Linked DNA regions of Homo sapiens. The protein of the gene in region 1 interacts with the protein of each later gene in a pairwise test. Each region holds a gene or a part of one and is shown in the gene's direction. Other genes may lie near its edges.

Evidence for each region.
Region 2: the proteins of DUSP29 (region 1) and PTK7 interact in a two-hybrid assay, tested with the Homo sapiens proteins (one study listed by BioGRID and IntAct).
Region 3: the proteins of DUSP29 (region 1) and AATK interact in a two-hybrid assay, tested with the Homo sapiens proteins (one study listed by BioGRID and IntAct).

The regions. Positions count from the first base shown.
Region 1 is NC_000010.11:75,063,555-75,070,659, reverse strand, and holds part of DUSP29 (dual specificity phosphatase 29), read left to right. Parts: intron 1-7,105. UniProt on the Homo sapiens protein: Dual specificity phosphatase able to dephosphorylate phosphotyrosine, phosphoserine and phosphothreonine residues within the same substrate, with a preference for phosphotyrosine as a substrate. Involved in the modulation of intracellular signaling cascades.
Region 2 is NC_000006.12:43,128,309-43,135,413, forward strand, and holds part of PTK7 (inactive tyrosine-protein kinase 7 isoform a precursor), read left to right. Parts: intron 1-668; coding exon 669-956; intron 957-1,418; coding exon 1,419-1,521; intron 1,522-1,921; coding exon 1,922-2,112; intron 2,113-2,202; coding exon 2,203-2,353; intron 2,354-3,707; coding exon 3,708-3,856; intron 3,857-4,112; coding exon 4,113-4,379; intron 4,380-7,105. UniProt on the Homo sapiens protein: Inactive tyrosine kinase involved in Wnt signaling pathway. Component of both the non-canonical (also known as the Wnt/planar cell polarity signaling) and the canonical Wnt signaling pathway.
Region 3 is NC_000017.11:81,156,168-81,163,272, reverse strand, and holds part of AATK (serine/threonine-protein kinase LMTK1), read left to right. Parts: intron 1-7,105. UniProt on the Homo sapiens protein: May be involved in neuronal differentiation.

The DNA.
Region 1 (7,105 bases):
AACTGCTCCACCCACTCTTTCCTATTCTCGGTTGGGAACACAACTCCCAGTACAGCTGGGAATTCCCCACCCACCCTCCAGGCCGCCTCCTTGTCTCTGCTCCCTGAAACCCTCTTTGAGCTCATGCGGATGTGCCAAGGGCTTACATTATCTCATTTAATTCAGCAACCAGTGAGGTGCAAGTTATCCCCATTTGACAGATGAGGAAGCCGAAGCCCAGGTAGTGAGATTCCAAGGCCCATAAGAGCTGCTTGCTGCAAATTTACATGACTGTGTGCTCCACTCTAGGGAGGGAAGCATACAGAATTGAGAGGCCCAGGCATGCCCTCAGGAGCTTATACTTTGTGACCAAGAATATAGTGAAGTATCTATTGTGGTGGGTTGGGATGTGGGGCTGTTGGGTTGAGTCCTATTTGCACCCTTTACTAGCTTGGTGTGTTGTTTCTTAACCTCCCTGACCCTCATTTTTTCATCTGTAAAGTGGAGGCAGTTATTCCCTATCTAGAACGTTTCTTTCTTTTCCTTCCTTCCTTCCTTCCTTCCTTCCTTCCTTCCTTCCTTCCTTCCTTCCTTCCTTCCTTCCTTCCTTTCTTCTTTCTTTCTTTTTTTTTTGACAAGGTCTCACTCTGTCACCCAGGCTGGAGTGCAGTGGCATGATCTTGGCTCACAGCAACCTCCACCTCCTGGGTTCAAGTGATTCTCATACCTCAGCCTCCCTAGTAGCTGGGATTACAGGCACACACCACCACGCCCAGCTCATTTTTTTTTTTTTGTATTTTTAGTAGAGACAGGGTTTCACCATGTTGGCCAGACTGGTCTCAAACTCCTCACCTCAAGGGATCCGCCTGCCTTGGCCTCCCACAATGCTGGGATTACAGGTGTGAACCACCGTGCCCAGCCACTATCTACAAGGTTTTGAGAGTAGATAATCACTGGGCACACAATAAAAGCAACACAATCATTTCCCTGGGTCCAGCCAAGGCCTTGATTTCTCTGCGAGCTTTTGTGGGTGGCAGATTTAAGAGGTGGCAGCCTTAGCCCCTCGCCTTCCCAAGGCCCAGAGCGTCCTCTGTGTAGCATCTGAGACAGGACCAGTGACGAATAAGTGGCCTGGACAGGAAGTGGTGGAGCGGCAGGACCATGGTGAGGGCTGCACCTGCGGAGTCTTGCCCTTCCCCGAACAAGGAAGGCTTGTTCTGAGGTGAGGCCCAGTGGGAAATGGTTCCTGTGAAACCGCCTGTGGTGTTTCCACACATCTTCAGAGGGAGTGAAGGCCCAGCTGCTTAGGATTCAGGAACCACAACGGGCCTGGTCAGACATCATGGTCTGGGTCTCCAGTGCCACAGCTCCCTCTCCCCTGGCCGCTCGAGAAAGTCCATCCCGGCCGGCTCCCTTGTCTGAGAAGGAAGCTGAGTGTGGCCTCCAGCCTCCTCAGGGCTTCCGGGAGGCCCTCCTCTGCCAAACCAAGATTGGGGAAATCAATTAGAAGTTCATAAATTACAACCCCAAGCGCTTTGAAACCATTTGAAGAGTTAATCAAACAAGTTCATGACATCAACACCATCAGAGAAGGAATATTAAATTACTTTTAAAATGAAGGCTCTTCTGTATTTTTTAATAAAAGGATTTTATATTAATTCACATAATTGCCTCCTGTTAACATACTTGCCAGAATCCAAAAGAAAAAAAAAAATCTGTTAAACTTGGAATATGTCTGATACATTAGGAATTAAATTATAGGCCACAAAAAATTCCTGAGTTTTTACGTCCAAGTTTTCTTTTTAAAAAAAATCCACTTACTTCATTCCCTAGTTGGGATCATTTTTGTATATCTAAAATGCGTAAAGACAAGCACTAACTTGTACTAAGTTAAAAATATGTACATATTTACATATGGACACTGCTGCCAAATTCCGCCCCTCCCCACGTACCCTAGCAGTAGGTATTACTCTCCTAATAGAGTAATTCACCCAACCACAATAACATTTTTACTCTCCCCCTTCTTTCCAAGCATATCCAAGCCCAACTTGGGTGGTGTCATGGAAGAAACGTGGTACACAGGCACTTAAACACAGACCAGCTTTCCCCATGAGCGCCATGCTTTAGAAACATGAAAATGCAATGGATCTACACACAGGCACAGATACAGAATGCCTTCGAAGGGAGAGGAGGATTTTTCATATTTAGAAGGTTCTCACTCTGTCATCCAGGCTGGAGTGCAGTGGCATGATCATAGCTCGCTGCAGCCTCAAACTCCTGGGCTCAAGCAATCCTCCCACCTCAGCCTCCCAAGTAGCTGGGACCACAGGTGCATGCACCTCCATGGTCAGCTATTTTTTTCTCTATCTTTTGTAGAAATGGGAGTCTCATCATGTTGCCCAGGCTGGTCTTGAACTGCTGGACTCAAGCAATCCTCCCGCCTCAGCCTCTTAAAGCTCTGGGATTACAGGCCTGAGCCACTGCACCCAGCCTTTACTGTATTTTAAAATGCTAAGGTGGTAACTTTTCTGTTATATGTATATAATTTTTAAAAATTTTCTTGCAGAAGGCTAGGTGCAGTGGCTCATGCCTATAATCCCAGCACTTTGGGAAGCTGATGGGGGTGGATCATTTGAGGTCAGGAGTTCAAGACCAGCCTAGCCAACATGGTGAAACCCCATCTCTACTAAAAATACAAAAATTAGCTGGGCGGGATGGTGAGCGCCTGTAATCCCAGCTACCCTGGAGGCTGAGGCAGGAGAATCGCTTGAATCTGGGAGGCGGAGGTTGCAGTGAGCCTGGATTGCACCATTTTACTCCAGCCTGGGCGACAGAGTGAGACTCTGTTTCAAAATAAAATAAAATAAAATAAAATATTTTCTTATAGAGACAGGGTCTCATAATGTTGCCCAGGCTAGTCTTGACCTCTAGGGAGAGGAGAATTTTTTAAATGTTTACACTATAAATTGTTCTACTCAGCTAAAAACCTCTAGAAGGCAGAGACCTCCCTGGCTTAGCTCAGCACACCCCTTTCCGATCCCCTCCCATGCTGGCCTGGCCCAGCCCAACCCTACACAGGGGCATACACGGTAAAGCTTTGGAGTCAGGGCCAGGCCTAACTTCTGAGGGGAAGTCAAGGAGGGAACGATGCCACTCCTCATTCCTTCTCGTGACCCGCCAGAGCACCCCCATGTCAGCTGAGTTAGACTAAGACCAAGCTAAGCAGAATCAATGATGCTGGCTCTGACACTGTAAGGGATGGGGTGGGGAGGGGGGCTGCCCTCTTCATCTGAAGTCAGAGGGGAAGGAAGATCCCCCCTACTCCGAGGTGGATTTACCCCAAGCTTCAGAACCCTGCACTTGCACCAGCCGCTTCCAAGGCCCTATACCTGTTTGGTTTTCTTTTACTTAAAGAAATTCAGGCCGGGTGCAGTGGCTCACGCCTGTAATCCCAGCACTCTGGAAGGCCGAGACAGGAGGATTGCTTGAGATCAGGAGTCCGAGACCAGCCTGGTCAACATGATGAAACCCCATCTCTACTAAAAATACAAAAATTAGCCAGGTGTGGTGGCACACACCTGTAGTCGTGTCTGCTTGGGAGAGGCTGAGGCAGGAGAATTGCTTGAACCCAAGAGGCAGAGGTTGCAGTGAGCTGAGATTGCACCACTGCACTCCAGCCTGAGCGACAGAGTAAGACTCTGTCTCAAAGAAAAAAAAAAAAAGAAAAAGAAAAAAAAGAAAAAAGAAATTGAATAAGCTTCAAGATCCACAAAACCTAGATTCCTCCTGCTTTCTCAGGAGGCACAGGCGGCTAGGATGACCTTCTGACACCACGGAGGCCTGACTGCTGCCATGGGCAGCCTCGGGGAGGACACAGAGCTGCCTTCGGGGGGCTCCCACTTGACAGGAGGCACTCGGTGCCACTGGAGAGATGTAAGGAGCAGGGTCAGACCTTGTCCTGAGGGCCACCTTCCTGCCTCGGCCCGGGGGTTTTGGGTGAGCTTCTACTCCGTGCAGAACACTTCTAAAATAGAACTTTCATGGAATTTTGTTTTTTTCCCTCCATATGCTCAAGTAAAACATGTCTAGCACAGAAAATTTAGAAAAGATGGTTACTTTAAAAAAAGAAAACAAAAATCACATATAATTTCGTCACCCTAAAACGAGCATGTAGCCAGTGTTAATATTTTGGGGAAATTTATTTTTGTACAAGAAGGGGATGGTTCTGTATCTGCTGCTTCACAAACTTCTGCTTTCTCTCTCTGCCAGCGCCAGCCTCTTTCCCTTTGATTTCTTGGAGTCACCGAGAACATGGCTGTTGTGTGTAACAATTCTGTTGAAGGGTTAGGGTCCCAATGAGAGGGCTGCCACAGCTATGGGGCACTGCCAAGTTGAAGGTTGGGAACCCCCGTTCTCAGTAATCTCGTGGCTATTCCTCCCCCAGAAACTCCTCACTTGGTGGTCTCTGGCCCCAGTTGGTCCTTTCCTCAGTCCTGCCGCAGGGCCCCCTCATACTCCTTCTAGAATGTTCTAGGAAACTCAAAAGTCTCTTGCTTTATTGTACAGAACAATTTAGTTCTCTTTGTTTCACTCCACCTCTTTCTGGGCCATGCCACAGAACTCATGTTTTTCCCATCAAAGGGACCCTCAAATAGGCCAAAGTGGCTCACACCCGTAATCTCAGTGCTTCAGGAGGCTGAAATGGGAGGATCACTTGAAGCCAGAAGTTGGAGACAGGCCTGGGCACCATAGCAAGACAATGTCTACAAAAATAAAATAATAAAATAAAATAAAATAAAATAAATGATAATAATAATAGTAAATTAGCTGGGTGTGGTGGCACATGCCTGCAGTCCTAGCTGCTCTAGAGGCTGAGGTGGGAGGATCCCTTGAACCTGGGAGATTGAGGCTGCAGCGAGCCATGATTGAACCACTGCACCACAGCCTGGGCAACTGAGTGAGGCCCTGTCTCTACGGAAAAAAAAAAAAATCCTTAAATTGTGCTTTCTGTTAAGCAAGAAGCCTGTATGTGGCTCTTCAAAATATTAAGATGGCTGGGCGCGGTGGCTCATGCCTGTAATCCCAGCACTTTGAGAGGCCAAGGTGGGTGGATCATTTGAGGTCAGAAGTTTGAGACCAGCCTGGCCAACATGGTGAAACCCTGTCTTTACTAAAAATACAAAATTTAGCCGGGTGGGGTGGCGGGTGCCTGTAGTGTCAGCTACTCCGGAGGCTGAGGCAGGAGAATCGCTTGAACCCGTGAGCTCCAGCCTGGGTGACAGAGCAAGACTCTGTCTCAAAAAAAAAAAGAAAAAAGATAAGCCTTCTTTCCTGACACATGCTCTCATTCCTAGGCATTGCTCCCTAGCCAATCTCTGCAGCCTCAAGGGTTCTACTTAGAGATTTTAATTTTCCCACTGAAATGAATTATGCATCTCTCCAGGCCGCTTCTCCCATCTGCCACCTTAGCAAGCAAAAGAGTTCAGCTTGAAATTTTTTTGTTTTTTTGTTTGTTTGTTTAAAAAGCATTTTGCCCCTCTAGCTTTAGCTCCATTTTTGTCAAAGAAGGCACTGGAGCTCAGGGAGGATGGAACATGTAGATCTGAGGGTCTTCAGTGATTGCTGGGGCCAGTGACAGTGCCAGGCCCCAGGAGCAAGTGAGATGGGGTAGAAATCGCAAAATAGAAGTCACAAGCAGCTTCCTGCCAAGACTGTTCTGCTTGGCCAGCACAGTTTAAAAATATACACATGGTTATTTATTATAAAATATCACTATTTATTAAAAGAATCCCAAATTAGGAAACAGAAGAAAAAGTCACCCATGGTATTGACATTTTGATGTATTTTTTTCCTAGTTAAAAAAAAAAACTATAAAAAGTTTTTTGCTTGTTTGGGTTTTTTTATGCATAAAGTAAAATAATGGTGTCAAATTACAGTTTCAAATTCAGATTAAAACCTTTCCTACTTGGGCAAAGGAAACCTTTAACTAAATGCAAGCCTTGCAATAGAAAATTCTGAAATAAGCCAGGTGCAGTGGCTCATGCTTGTAATCCCAGAATTTTGTGGGGCTGAGGCAGGAGGAACGCTTGAGCCCAGGAGTTCAAGACCCGTTTGGGCAACATGGTGAGAGCCCATCTCTACAAAAAACTTTTTTTGTTGTTGTTTTTTGTTTCTGAGACGGAGTCTCGCTCTGTCACTAGGCTGGAGTGCAGTGGCGCGATCTCGGTTCACTGCAACCTCTGCCTCCCAGGTTCAAGCAATTCTCCTGCCTCAGCCTCCCAAGTCACTGGGACTACAGGCATGCGCCACCACACCCAGCTAAATTTTGTATTTTTGGTAGAGACGGGGTTTCACCATGTTGGCCAGGATAGTCTCGATCTCTTGACTCTGTGATCCACCTGCCTTGGCCTCCCAAAGTGCTGGGATTACAGGCGTGAGCCACCGTGCCCGGCTACAAAAAAACTTTAAAAAAAAAATTAGCCAGGTGTGGTGGTGCAACCTGTGGTCTCAGCTACTTGGGAGGCTGAGGCAAGAGGATATTGAGCCCAGGAGTTTGAGGCTGCAGTGAGCTGTGCCACTGCACTCCAGCCTGGGTGACAAAGTGAGACGTTATCTCAAAAAAAAAAAAGTCTGAACTAGAGTCTGAGTTAATGAGGAGTCCCTGTGCTGATAGCTCTTCAAAGGCAAGGTCACTTTCATGGAAGGAAATGGCACTCCAGGCCTTAGTGGTCAAGTACTGCTCGGCCTCTTGCATCTTCTGTTATCATGGTAGCTTTGTTTTTTCTTTTCTCCTTACATTTTTATTTTTAATTGACAAATAATAATTGTATTTGTGGGATACGATGTGATGTTTTGATATATGTATACCGTGTCTTTCACCTTTAAATGTTTTTAAATTAGCTGTACCTTGGTTTAGTTTCCTTTAAAAGCACACTCTGAGACTAGAGTTTGGGTGCATGTTGTTTATTTGAGAGGTGCTCCCGGGAGCACGGTGTGGCATGCAGAGCACCCAAGAGGGAGGAGAACCAGTGAAGGATGTGTAAGCGAGCAGAGTCCCACTCTGGGCAACTGGAGCTCCAACACACGGGCCAGCCTCCAGGAGACTGTGCAGGACATATTTCAAAAG
Region 2 (7,105 bases), on another chromosome or scaffold:
TGTGCAGCCAGCCCTTAGGGGTCCCTTCTTCCTTCGTGCTCAAGTCACTACTGCCTGCCCACCCCATTCATTTGGCATTTATGTGACTGTAACTGTGTTCTGTGTGCCCCTCTAGTCTTCAGACCTCTTGAGGAGAGGCTACTGTGTCTTTGTATCCTACAGAGCACTCAGCACAGTTGAAAAGCTCTTCAGGGGGCTGGGCGTGGTGGCTCACGCCTGTAATCCTAGCACTTTGGGAGGCCGAGGTGGGCAGATCACCTGAGGTCAGGGGTTCGAGACCAGCCTGGCCAACATGGCGAAACCCTGTCTCTACTAAAAATACAAAAATTAGCTGGGTGTGGTGGCTCATGCCTATAATCCCAGCTACTCGAGAGGCTGAGGCAGAAGAATCACTTGAACCCAGGAGGTGGAGGTTGCAGTGAGCTGAGATCACACCACCACATTCCAACCTGGGTGACAAGAGCAAAAAAAGAAAAAGAAATCTCAAAAAGAAAAAGAAAAGTTTTTCAGGGGACTCTTGCAATTGTGGCATCATGATCCTTCACACCTGCACTTACTGGACGCCTCCTGTGTACACAGCCCCTTTCCTCCTGTGCACAAGGTGGCCTGTGTTAGGACAGAGGCTGCAGCTCCCCCTGACCCTGCCTCTCCCCTGTTTGCATCTACAGGTACCCAGACAGCCATTGTCTTCATCAAGCAGCCGTCCTCCCAGGATGCACTGCAGGGGCGCCGGGCGCTGCTTCGCTGTGAGGTTGAGGCTCCGGGCCCGGTACATGTGTACTGGCTGCTCGATGGGGCCCCTGTCCAGGACACGGAGCGGCGTTTCGCCCAGGGCAGCAGCCTGAGCTTTGCAGCTGTGGACCGGCTGCAGGACTCTGGCACCTTCCAGTGTGTGGCTCGGGATGATGTCACTGGAGAAGAAGCCCGCAGTGCCAACGCCTCCTTCAACATCAAATGTGAGAGCCAGGGGGGCTGTGCCCAGTCCCCCTGTCAGACCCTCAATGACTGAGGCCTGGGGGATCCCTCCCTTACCTCAGCTTCTCCCATTTCCAGTTAAACGGGCCAGGCAGAATGCATTTATCATCAGCTTTTTTTGCTCATGTGGATAAGAGGAAATTAAAAGTTATATTTTTTCCAAAATTTTTTCCTTCAAGTCTGGGACCCATTTATCTGCTGCATGCTTGTGCAAATGGAAAGGGCGGCCGAGCCCTTGGCCAAGTGTCAGACTTGACCTGCCAGGGACCAGGCAGGCACTTAGTATCTGGTAACTGTAGCCCCAGCCTCAGCCTCCAGGGCTTCCTTGTGTCTGTTGGCACAGAGCCTCGAGGTTCCACGGCTTCCTGCTTGTCCTCCTTGCCCTCTGCCTTCCCGCCTTTGCCCTGCTCTGCCCCTCACTGCAACCGTGGCCTCTGCTACAGGGATTGAGGCAGGTCCTGTGGTCCTGAAGCATCCAGCCTCGGAAGCTGAGATCCAGCCACAGACCCAGGTCACACTTCGTTGCCACATTGATGGGCACCCTCGGTAAGGAGTCAGGGAGGTGGGGATGAAGAGGGTTATTCCGGACAGGGATGTCTCCCCAAATCTTGGACTCTATGCGGATGTTACCTCGCTCCATTCTGTGACCACTCGTTCCACCACCACAGTGCTCTTCACCCTGCCCTCCCCCAGATATTGCCCTATGCCGGCCCCTGGTGGCCTGAAGAGTGAGCCACATTGTGTGTAGAGCTGGGAGATCTAATATCAACTTGATTCTGCCCCTGAATCAGAATTACTGTGTGCCCTTTTGCAAGTCCCTTCCCTTCCTCAGGCCGTTTCTCCATGTATAAACTGAAAGGTCTAGCCCTGACCCTCTGATACTGTATCCTCTCCACTGGCCACTGAGTACCCCTCCCCACCACTGCTGACTGTGTCTGCCCTGCAGGCCCACCTACCAATGGTTCCGAGATGGGACCCCCCTTTCTGATGGTCAGAGCAACCACACAGTCAGCAGCAAGGAGCGGAACCTGACGCTCCGGCCAGCTGGTCCTGAGCATAGTGGGCTGTATTCCTGCTGCGCCCACAGTGCTTTTGGCCAGGCTTGCAGCAGCCAGAACTTCACCTTGAGCATTGCTGGTGAGCCTGGGGTGGGGGCGGAAGGGATGAGGTGAGCACAGGAGGGCCTCACCACCCAGGCTGCATGCTCCCCCATCTTTCCCTCTCCAGATGAAAGCTTTGCCAGGGTGGTGCTGGCACCCCAGGACGTGGTAGTAGCGAGGTATGAGGAGGCCATGTTCCATTGCCAGTTCTCAGCCCAGCCACCCCCGAGCCTGCAGTGGCTCTTTGAGGATGAGACTCCCATCACTAACCGCAGTCGGTAAGGCATCTGGCTGGGAGCATTCCAGTACCATGTACCACACACATGCATTCTGTAGAAGGGGGTGCGATTTGTATCACAGACATCACAGATTTGTACATGTATTATTTCAAATTTCCAAGAGACACAGTTGAATGTTTTGCTTTTACAAGATGAGTCTGACACAGGGAAGAGTCTCTGGGAAGAGCCCTTTTCCAGTTTGCACAAAGGCACTCTGAGCTAGTGATGGTTCCACTTCTCTCTCCCCACCACCCACATGGGTCTTCTGGGATGGAAGGGTAGAGACCCCAGGGATGAGAGAGACACAAGAGACCTAGGTAGTCAGGTGGTCATAGTCTAGATAGCGTGATCCAGTGTGGCAAAGACATCACACACACACACACACACACACACACACACACACACACACACACACACTTTTTAGAGGAAGCAAACACCTCTAGAAGGTTCCAGCCCTACTGCAGGGACTTCTGTTCTTGCCTGGACCCTAGGAGAACATAGAACACCTTTGCAGTGTCAGGCACGACCATGGTCCTTGGGGGTGTGGCTTCCTAGGCTAGGGGCTTGGATGCCACTTGGCTTCAGCCCTGAGGACATCATCAGTAGCCTGCCTGGTATGGCTGAGGGGTATCTGACCCTGGAGCTGGGTGCCCTATCAACGTGGCCCTGTGGGAAGGTGGCTTCCCTGTCTTGACAGTTGCACATGGTGGTTATTCTGTGTATTAGTCCATTTTAATGCTGCTGATAAAGACATACCCGAGACTGAGCAGTTTACAAAAGAAAGAGGTTTAATTGGACTTACAGTTCCACATGGCTGGGCAAGCCTCACAATCATGGCAGAAGGCAAGGAAGACCAAGTCACGTCTTACATGGATGGCAGCAGGCAAAGGAGAGAGAGCTTCTGCAGGGGAATGCCTCATTTTAAAACCATCAGATCTCGTGAGACTTGTTCACTATCATGAGAACAGCACGGGAAAGACTTGCCCCCATGATTCAGTTACCTCCCACTGGGTCCCTCCCACAACATGTGGGAATTATGGGAGCTACAATTTAAGATGAGATTTGAGTGGGGACACAGCCAAACCATATCACTCTCTCTCGCACCTGCATTGCCATTTGCCTCATTGCTTCCCGAGCTGATCTCCTGTAGTTGGAACACACACCTGCACGTGCACCTGAGCAAGTGTATGCAGGCACACACACCAGTCTGGAGTGTCAGCTTCCTTCTCTCTGCCCTGTTCCTGGTCGATTCCTTACTACATTTCCGACTTTGCAGGAAAGGGGTTCCCTTGCATTCCTTTCCAGAACTAGGCCTATTGGCCACTTTCTCCAAATTGCACTCTCCCCTCTGCAGCCCCCCACACCTCCGCAGAGCCACAGTGTTTGCCAACGGGTCTCTGCTGCTGACCCAGGTCCGGCCACGCAATGCAGGGATCTACCGCTGCATTGGCCAGGGGCAGAGGGGCCCACCCATCATCCTGGAAGCCACACTTCACCTAGCAGGTGAGTCTCTGGGTCTGGGGTGCTGATGTGGGAGGCTGCCTTTAACATTTTTGGCACATAGAGATTTAGGCTTCTGTTTTTACTCAGCCGCTTGGAGGGCAGGGGAAGAAAAGGATGCTGGGAGTAGGAAGAGGATATGCAGAGGGCTGCAGGGGAGGGTTTGTGCTGGGAAAGGGCCTAGGCTTGCTGTGGGAGAACATCATGTACCCTGAGACCCACAATAATTGGGCCATTCCTCCTACTTATGTCCTTGCAGAGATTGAAGACATGCCGCTATTTGAGCCACGGGTGTTTACAGCTGGCAGCGAGGAGCGTGTGACCTGCCTTCCCCCCAAGGGTCTGCCAGAGCCCAGCGTGTGGTGGGAGCACGCGGGAGTCCGGCTGCCCACCCATGGCAGGGTCTACCAGAAGGGCCACGAGCTGGTGTTGGCCAATATTGCTGAAAGTGATGCTGGTGTCTACACCTGCCACGCGGCCAACCTGGCTGGTCAGCGGAGACAGGATGTCAACATCACTGTGGCCAGTGAGCACCTTTGCCCTGAAGGTCAAGGAGAGGTGGAGGGGAACACAGGTCTGGGTGTGATGGACAGAGGCTTCCCTGGTACTCACCTGAGGTCCTCTCAGTTCTGGGCCCTGCAGGCTTGGGAATCAGTTCACTACTGGGAGTCGGTGTAGACAGTAGAGAGCCAGGCACAGGGGTTAGGGTGGGTGCTCCAGAGGAAATAGTGACAGCCCTCACAGAAAAATGGTCCTCTGGGTACAGAGGAAAGAGCAATAGACTAGGAATCTAGAGACCTGGGTCCCACTATGCTCCCAATGCACAGAGTGACGATGGTAGCAAATCACCCACCTTACTGGGGTTCAGTCTCCTCATCCATAAAATGGAGCCAGTAATCTACTACCTACCCCACAAGGTGGTTGGAAAGGTCAAATGAAGTAGATGAAAATGATTTTTCTTTTTTTCTTTTTTGGGAGGTAATAGTGGACAAAATTATAGGTGATTTTTAATTTGTTTTAGTTTGTTATGCTTTCCAAATTTCTTTACTAAACATATTACTTATGAAAAAAAAGAGGGGGAGAAAAGCAAGACATATGACTGAAAGTACACATGATAAACCCTTTATATCAGGCTGGGCGCGGTGGCTCATGCCTGTAATCCCAGCACTTTGGGAGGCCGAGCCGGGCGGATCACAAGGTCAGGAGTTGGAGACCAGCCTGACCAACATGGTGAAACCCCATCTCTACTAAAAATACAAAAATTAGCTGGGCGTGGTGGGGCACACCTGTAATCCCAGCTACTCAGGAGGCTGAGGGAGGAAAATTGCTTGAACCCAGGAGGCAGAGGTTGCAATGAGCTGAGATCGCACCGTTGCTCTTCAGCCCGGGCAACAGAGTGAGACTCCATCTCAAAACAAAACAAAACAAACCTTATATCCTCACTACAGGCATAGGGATTTATTTGTTTACTTATTTCTTTATACCATGCCTTGTTCCAAACCTTTTGTGGTAGTTTAAAAGGATACACAATAAAAATTACAATATGCACACAGAGACACACATACATACAAACTATTTTGCAATCTGCTTCTTCCACTTACCTTTATGTTACTATTATCTTTCCGAGTGGGTAACTTTGCAAAAAGATTTGAATATGAAAGTGGCTTTGTAAATGTGAAGTTGTGATGCTAGTATTCCCATTAGGATACTGAAATCTTAGAAGACATGCACCTATACTCAGGCCGTGATTTGGGTGGGAATCACAGCACATGTGTAACGAGTGCTCAGGACACTCACAGTGCAGGTGCAAAGGCAAGATGCACAGTCAAGCCTTCCTCCAGTTGAGGTCTGAGAATCACCTGCTTTCATTAGGGATACTTTTTCTTCTTTTGTTTGAGACGGAGTCTCACTCTGTCACCCAGGCTGGAGTGTAGTGGTGTGATCTTGGCTCACTGCAACCTGCGCCTCCCAGGTTCAAGTGATTCTCGTGCCTCAGCCTCCCAAGTAGCTGGGTTTAAAGGTGTGTGCCACCACACCTGGCTAATTTTTGTATTTTTAGTAGAGGCGATGTTTTACCATGTTGGCCAGGCTAGTCTCAAACTCTTGACCTCAAGTGATCCACCTGCCTCGGCCTCCTAAAGTGCTGGGATTATGGGTGTGAGCTGCCATGCCCGGCCTCATTAGGGATACTTTTTAAAACACAGGCCAGGCGTGGTGGTTCACACCTATAATCCCAGTGCTTTGGGAGGCCGAGATAGGAAGATCTCTTGAGCCCAGGAGTTTGAGACCAGGCTGGACAAAATAGTGAGACCTTGTGTCTACAGAAATTTAAAAAGTTAGCTGGGCGCGGTGGCTCACGCTTGTAATCCCAGCACTTTGGGAGGCCGAGGTGGGTGGATCACGAGGTCAGGAGTTCGAGATCAGCCTGACCAACATGGTGAAACCCCGTCTCTACTAAAAATACAAAAATTAGCTGGGCATGTTGGCACTCACCTGTAATCCCAGCTACTTGGGAGGCTGGGGCAGGAGAATTGCTTGAATCCAGGAGGCAGAGGTTGCAGTGAGTCGAGATCGTGCCATTGCACTCCAGCCTGGGTGACAGAGCGAGACTTTGTCTCAGGAAAAAAAAAAAAAAAAATTTAGCCAGGTATGGTGATGCACACCTATAATCCCAACTATTTGGGAGGCTGAGGCTGGAGGATCATTTGAGCTCGGGAGCTGGAGGTTCCAGTGAGCTATGATCACACTACTGTACTGGAGCCTGGATGACAGCAAGACCCTGTCTCCAAAAAAATGTCTAAGACATTGCTGGAGCCTTGAAAAAAAGAAAAAAAATGCAGAATTCGGGGCCCCACTCCACAGCTTCCAACCCAGGCTCTAGGGGTGGGACCCAGGTAGATGTGTATTTAACAAGTGCTCTGGGTGATACTTCATGTGTGTTCAAGTTGGGGAACTCTGGCTTTGATCAGTCATTCCACAGATGCTGACTGAGGCTGACACTGAGCCATGCCAGTGTCCCTTGCTGTGCTCTGAGAAGGAGGCCTGTGGCATTTGAGAGTGTGTGATGCAAACAGGGCCAGATCAGGTGCTGGGTGTTAGAGGGTAGAGCCCAGAAGACGGAGAGCTCTGGGAATGCATTCAGTCAACAGAGATTTGTCGAGCACCTTGTGCTAGCTCTTCCCAGTACTGGATGCAACTGTGAACAAAGCAGGCAGAAGCCCCTCTCCTTGTGGAGTTCATATTCTAACAGCG
Region 3 (7,105 bases), on another chromosome or scaffold:
CTTCCCTGGTGCGGCCTCAGGGCGTCATGATTTCTAGTCGTCCTGAGCCCTGGGGCCTGGAGCTGTCCTAGGCTGGAAGTGGGCATGGGGACACCGCCTCGCTCCGGCTTCTGGAGAGGCGCGCTCAGCCTGAGGGTGGGGGTCAAATGCTCTGCACAGTTAGGAGCAGGGGTTTGCCCTGGGGCCACCTCTGGTTTGCTGAGGGGCCCTTCTGTGACTGGCTCTCCATGCCTGTTTTGTCATCTGTAAGGTGGGAATGGCTGTGATGGCCAGGTCTGAAGGGACAGCAGTGGTGCACTGAGCCAAGGGTGGGTACCTGGGCAGTGCCTACCATGGCTGATCCCTGACGCAGAGGTGTCACTGTTGACCAGTGGGCAGGGCTTGGAGTTTGTGGAAGTTCTCGGAACACGTGGCAGCCTGGATTTGCCACCCCCCAACCCCCGCCTCTCCCCTGTCCCTCAGCTCACGCCCTGTCTCCTGCCCAAGGTCTCTCCCTGTGTCTGACCTGAACCAGGCGCCATGGGGGGTTCCTGGGAGAAGTGCCTGTGCCTGGCCACGGTGCTCGCTCTATCAGCATTCATGTGAACCGGACACCTGGCACAGGGCTGGGCAGGCTGGGCCTCAGGATGAGCCTATTGATGGGGAGAGGGCAGAGGAGGCAGCGAGCCCCGGGCCAGGCATGGCCTCAGTGGCAGGGGCAGGGCTGGACTCAGGGGCTCAAGGGGCTGAGCAGGAGGCCATGGGCCTGGGTGGTCCCCGGGAGTCCTCCCCTTGGAAGGTGCCCCACAGCTGACACTGCCCGGGCACCAGGTGTGGAGTCTGTTTGAAGGCAGCTGCTGCTTCAGTCTCCCAGACCACTCAGGCTCAGGCAGCAAGCACCTGCCCTGGGAGGAGTTACCTGTCCTCCTCTCGCCCCCGGGGTCTCAGAGGATGCCCCAGAGGAAGCTGTGCCCATGAGTTCGGCCCATCCCCCTACTTCCTCTCAGGTCTCAGGTCTCCCACCGAGACCCTTAGGCTGCAGGTGTGCAGGCCGAGGTGGGTTCTTGGAGAGGGTCCCATGGGAAGGCTGTGTGGACAGTGGCCTTGGGGAGCGGTCACACGCAGGCCGTGGGCCCTGGGCACGGGTCCGGCTCCCACCTACCAGCATGGGTGCGGGCACTCGGGGAGGGTGTGGGTGTCGGCACTCGGGGAGGGGGTGGGTGTGAGGCCCCACACTCCCAGGCATGGGTCAGGGAGAACATTTCTCTCATTCCGGCACATTCTCCAGGAGGCCAGGCTGTGCGCTTCCCTCCATGGGGTGGTGCAGTGACCCAGAGGACCGGCCCCTGCAGTGGCCACCCTGTGGGCCCGAGTGCCCCAGAGCTGGCTGGGGTGGGCTGGCAGCTGTTGTGTTGTGTGGAACATGCTGGAAGGTCTGCCTTGTGCCACCCTGCATGTTTGGGATGCATCGACTCCCCGCCATGCCCTCTGCCTCCCCGGCTCCCAACCCTGACCCTGCCTCACGGGAGAGTTCTGGCGTGGGCTGGTGTCCTGGGCCGGGCCCTGCTGTGTGACCATGGACAGGTCTCATAACTTCTCTGTGTCTGTTTCACCTCTGAAATGGGGTCCGGCAGCACCCACGCTCCAGGAGGTTCCTGAGAGAACCCGGGGGCCGTCACGGCAGCTCCAGGGCTGGTGACTGTTCACGTCCTCTCTGCACTCACCCACCACCCCGGCCGCCTGGGAACTGTGCTCCTGCCTGTGCCCCCTGGAGGCATGTGCTGAGTGGAATATGTCACCCCAAACCCATGCCCGCCCAGTACCTCAGAATGGGGCCTTATTTAGAACTAGGGTCTTTGCAGCTGTAATCAAGTTAAGATGAGGTCGGACCGGAGTAGGGTGGGCCCTGAATCCAATGACTGGGGCCTGATAGAAAGAGGAGGAGTGGCGTGCACGCGGGAAGGAGGCCACGTGCAGAGGCTGGAGTGATGCAGGCCCAGGAGCACCTGGGGCCGCTGTGCCGGAGAGGCAGGAAGGATCCCGCCAGCGCCTCGAGGGAGTGGCCCTGCCCATGCCGTGCTTTCCTCCTCCACTGTCCAGAACTGTGAGCACATCCATTCCTTGCCGTCTGGGCCAGCAGCCCGTGGTCCCAGGACACACATCTGGGGGTCTCCTTGGGTCTGAGGGGTGAGCACAGCTGCCTCGAGACATCAGGAGCCTCTGACTCCATCCTGAGAAGAGTTATCCTTGGAAGAAAATGAGGCCACGTGCTAGCCCCCAGCCTCAGAACCCTCCAGGGCGCTTGGCTGGGTGTGAGGAGGAAGCAGGCCGGGGCCACAGCTGCGTGGCATCCTCTGCCTCCTCCTCGGTCCACGGGGGAGGCAGAGGGTCCACGGAGCACCTCGGTGTCTCCTCGGATGTGGTGTCGGCGGTGAGCCTGGGACCACGCTGTTCTGCTGTCACCGGCCTCCTGTCTCCAGCTCACGGGGTTCTTCCGGGGTAGGCTTTTCTCGAGGGCCACCTGACCCCTCTGTGCACGCCAGGGCAAGGCTGACGGGAGGCCCACTCGACCACTCCTGGGTGGGAGCCTGATGCAAAGCACCTGCCGTGGGGCCTCGGCCTGCGGTCCTGTCCCTGGTGGCACAGATCCAGGGGCCCAGGAGCCCGTGTCCGTGGTGGGGAGACTCCCGTCCCCTCCGCAGGCCACAGTGACAGGAGGGCTTTGGCGTCTGGGCCCCCCTGGGCCTTGCCCTGCCTTTCACAGAGGAACAAGCGCCCGCGGGACCGGCGGCCTTGGCCTCCCCGCCCCCCCGCAGAGGAAGCCGGCAGAGGAAATGAGGGCAGCGGACGGGGCCGGAGCCAGTTCCCAGGCACCTCTGAGAACTGTCACGGGAGGCGGCGTCCTCGCCGGGTCTCCAGCCTCCCTCCGCAGGGACCGGGGCCTGGGGTCAGGGGGCTGCGGCCTTGGGTGGGGCTGGGGCGGGCTGGGGTCCTCCCGGGGGTCACTCTGGGGTTACAGCCACGGTCAGAGCCACGCGGGAGCGACACCCAGAGCCTGGTACGTGGGGGTTTCTGGGAGGATGCGGGCTGTGCTCCCACTGCCAGCCTGGGGGTGGGGGCCGTGGCCAGGAGACTCCTGCTCCTGCAGGGACCCTGCCAGCGGAGGTGGCCGTGCCAGAGCAGGCAGGGCCTCTGCAGTGGGCGATTCTGGGCAGCCGGGGCCACCTGCCCCAGGGGGAGTGAGGGGCAGGATGCTACCCCGAGCCAGGGCTGCTCAAGGCCACCTCTCACGGCGGGGCGTGGCCAGCCTATCCCCATCTCACCCTCGGGGAGGGTGTGGGGTCCCTGCTGCTGAGGGACAGGAATCTGGCTCTACCCACCTGCCAGGGTCCCCAGGAAGACCCCTCCCTGTCCCTGGTATCGGGTAGCCCTGGCCAGCTGGCCTGGGGGAGCCAGGCTGGGGGGCAGGGGAGCTGGTCCGGGACCAGGGCTCTGCCGAGTCACCTCTGTGCCAAGGCCACGGTTTGAGGCTGTGGCTTGAGGCCGTTGTGGGATGGAGCTGGGGATGCCGTCCTCGGTGTGAGGATCCTCCGACGAGGCCCTGGTGCTCGGTGGGGCCCCTCTGGCTTCCCTTCTGCTCTGCTTCTGGGAATTCTTAGTGACTCTGAACAAGGGGCCTTGGGTTCCCTTGGTACTTGGTCCTGCGGATTCTGCAGCCGGTGGGGCTTGCTTAGGGTTTGGGCTCCGCTGTGAGGCCCACGTGGAATTTCCTCGAACCCCCTGCGAAAAAGGCGTGTGGCTTCCTAGTGACCACGGCACACACAAGTGCGCTCTGACCTCCGGGGTGCGGGTCCGGGGCTTCCCCGCATTGGATTTACCCGCGCGGCAGCACGCCCAGCCCCCGAGAGTCCCCGCCACTGCCCCCAGGACTGCTACCTGGCCGGTCACTCGCAGGCCGCCGGCGCCCTCCCAGCTGCCCCATGTTGGGGATCTCGCTCGCTCTCTGTGAATGATGCTCAGTTGTGGGCTGTCCCGTGGGCTGCTATCGTGGACGCTGGAGTGAGGGCCCCTTTACTGAGAGGTAACTCACATACCAAGGACCCACCTGTGTCAAATGAGCAGCTGGGGCTTTCCTGCATTCCCAAGAGTGCAGCCATGGCACGGCTAGCTGTGGAGCATCCCTGCCCCTGACAGAAGCCCCATGCCCGAGGGCATCACTCCCCATCCCCTGCCCCCAGCCCTGGCAGCCACCGATCTGTCTCGGTCTCTGGGCCCCTGGCCTGGACGTCTGTCTCATAAGCAGGGTCCTGTGGCCTTGTCCTCTTTGGGCCCTGAGGTTTTCGCTGTGTGTATAGCGGCCCCAGGGATCAGGGGTGCTGGTGTGTGACTGTGGGGCACTGTCCAGGGAGCTTCCAGGAGGTGGTGCCATTTTGCCCCCATCCCCATGGACGAACGCCTCCATGGCTTCCCCTCCCGCCAGTGCTGGCTGCTGTTTTTATAACGCCCGGGCTCGTGAGCATGTGGGGGCTGCCCATGGTGGTCTTGTCTGCCTTTCTGTGGCGAAAGATGTCAGGAGCCTTTCCAGGTCCTGCCCAGCTCTTCTGAGCCCCTCAAGCGAGTGCCCATTGGAGGTATTTTTTGGTGGTTTGTACCTGGTGTCGGGCAGCCCTGGCCAGCTGGCCTGTGGGAGCCAGGCTCGGGGCAGTGGGCAGGTCCTGGACACAAGGCCTCAGGTCTGTGCGCAGTGAGCAGGTGGCCTGCTGCTTCACTTCCCGTGACCCTGTGCAGGGCTGAGCACCAGCAGCTTCCACCCTGAAATGGGCCGAGGTGAGAGCACTTGCGGCAGGAGCCGGCACACGCCCCGCTTTCCTTCCCAGGGAGCTGGGTGCAGACACTGACCAGCACACCGCCAGGCTCAGGCACCTTCTCTCCCTGGGAAGCTGCCTGGAATCTCTGTGGCCCAGAGGCAGGTGTCCCTGAAAGCAGCTCCTGGCCCCAGGGATGAATGACGGGGAGGACGGACCCTGCTCGGACCCTGGCTCTGGAGGCTGGGCCCCGCCCTGCTCTCTGCCGCGGGGTCTGGCGAGATGCTTGGCTGCTGCTGGAGCCTGAACTAGCGCGTCAGACTGTTTTATTTTTCCTTCTGTGACGGGCGGCCCTGCAAGTCTTGTCTAGAAATACCCGTGGCCGGCATGCATCCGCGACGCCCGGCCGCCCTGGCCATGGACCTGCCCGTTTCCTCCTTGGCAAGCCTGAGCCCAGCAGCCCCCTGCTGCTGCCCAGCCAGCACTGAGGGAGGGACTCAGTCCGTGCAGGTCTGTAGGGGGCCAGCTGGATGCCCGGCTGTGTCAGGGCCGGGGTCCTGAGACGCACAGGAGGGTAGGCCCCCACGAAGAGCGGGACCGAGGGCCAAGGTGTTGGGGGACAGTGTGCGTCGAGCAGAGACAGGCCAGGAGCGAAGAGATGGGGGCTGTGGGACCTTAGCTGGAGCTGCCTGCCCCTTGGAGGCTTCTCCACTGTCAGGGATCAGCCTCCTGGGGAACCGGGGGCATTCCAGGTGCCCTTCCCACCCTTGGACCAGCCTTGGGGTAGGCCCTGGGGCATCTGATGCTGATGCAGGCTGGGCCTGGGCTGTGTGTTGTGTCAACAGAGGGGACATTCCTTGTGAGTGTCCAGCTGGTGGAACTCACTTCCGTCCCTGGGCTGGCCTGGGCTGGGCACCCATGTTTGATTGCAGGGTTGGCTGTCGAGGGGCAGGAGAGGCGGACTTAGAGATGCTGGGGTGGTAACCCCCGGGAACTGTGCGGGGGTTCCCTGCAGCAGAGAGTAGGGCTGGTCCTAGCACTGGGGGAGGGCCGGATGCCCACCTTGGGGCTGCCAGCGTGTGCGGCAGGCATGTGCGTGGAGGGGTACGTGTGCGTCTATGAGCAAGTGCAGCCCCAGGTTGGAGGCGAGCGTGTGCATGGGCTGGTGCGGTGCCCGCGGTGTCGGATGGACCCGGCCCGGGCCCGTGGACCTTGCCATGTCCTGGGCTTGTCCCGGAAGCTTACATTTTATGTGGCCTCTCCTAAAAATAACCGTGGCTGGCCTGCATCCTCCTTATCCGTGGACATTCGGGCTCCCCTCTCTTGGCGGGGGCGGTGTCTTGTGACTTACAGCCCCTGCCCTGTCCTCACCTGCCACCCAGAATCCCACGCGGCAGATGGTGCCCACATCTGTCTGGTCTCGGGAGTGACTGTGGGGATGGTTCAGGGCTGGGCACGATGCCGCCACCAGGGCCTGTGGGGGCACCGTTGCTGTCCCAGAGGCTCCTCCTGCCCTCTCTCCCCTGTGTCGGGAGGCCTGTGGGGTCTTGCCGTACCCCGCCCAGGGCCCTGCTTCTGAGTTGGGGAGGGGGTCCTCAGTTTCGTGCCTGACTGGCGATCAGGGCCGAGGAGGGGTCTGCTGGACTGGGCTCTCTGTAGCAGGAGCTGATTGAATCCCAAAAGACACAATCCCAAGTGCCATCATCCTGAGTGTGGAAATCCCAAAAGGTCAAAATTCCAAAAACCGAATTCAGGAAAAAAATGATTTAAAAGATTCTTTAGAAGACATTTAGTCTGGGCGCGGTGGCTCACACCTGTAATCCCAGCACTTTGGGAGGCCAAGGCAGGCGGATCACCAGGTCAGGAGTTTGAGACCAGCCTGGCCAACATAGTGAAACCCTGTTTCTACTAAAAATACAAAAAATTAGGCGGGTGTGGTGGCTGGCGCCTGTAGTCCCAGCTCCTCGGGAGGCTGAGGCAGGAGAATGGCATGAACCCGGGAGGCGGAGCTTGCAGTGAGCCGAGAAGCACCACTGCACTCCAGCCTGGGCGACAGAGCAAGACTCTGTCTCAAAAACAAAACAAAACAAAAAACATTTATTTGCATTTGAAAAGGGATTTATTTGAAAAACATAAAAACTCAATAAAAATAAAAACTTCAGAGGCCACTTCACACAATAACACAGGCCATAGTAACATACATTGTAACATAGTAACATACATTGTAACATGGTAACATACATTGTAACATAGTAACATACATTGTAACATGGTAACATACATTGTAACATGATAACATACATTGTAACAGTAACATACAT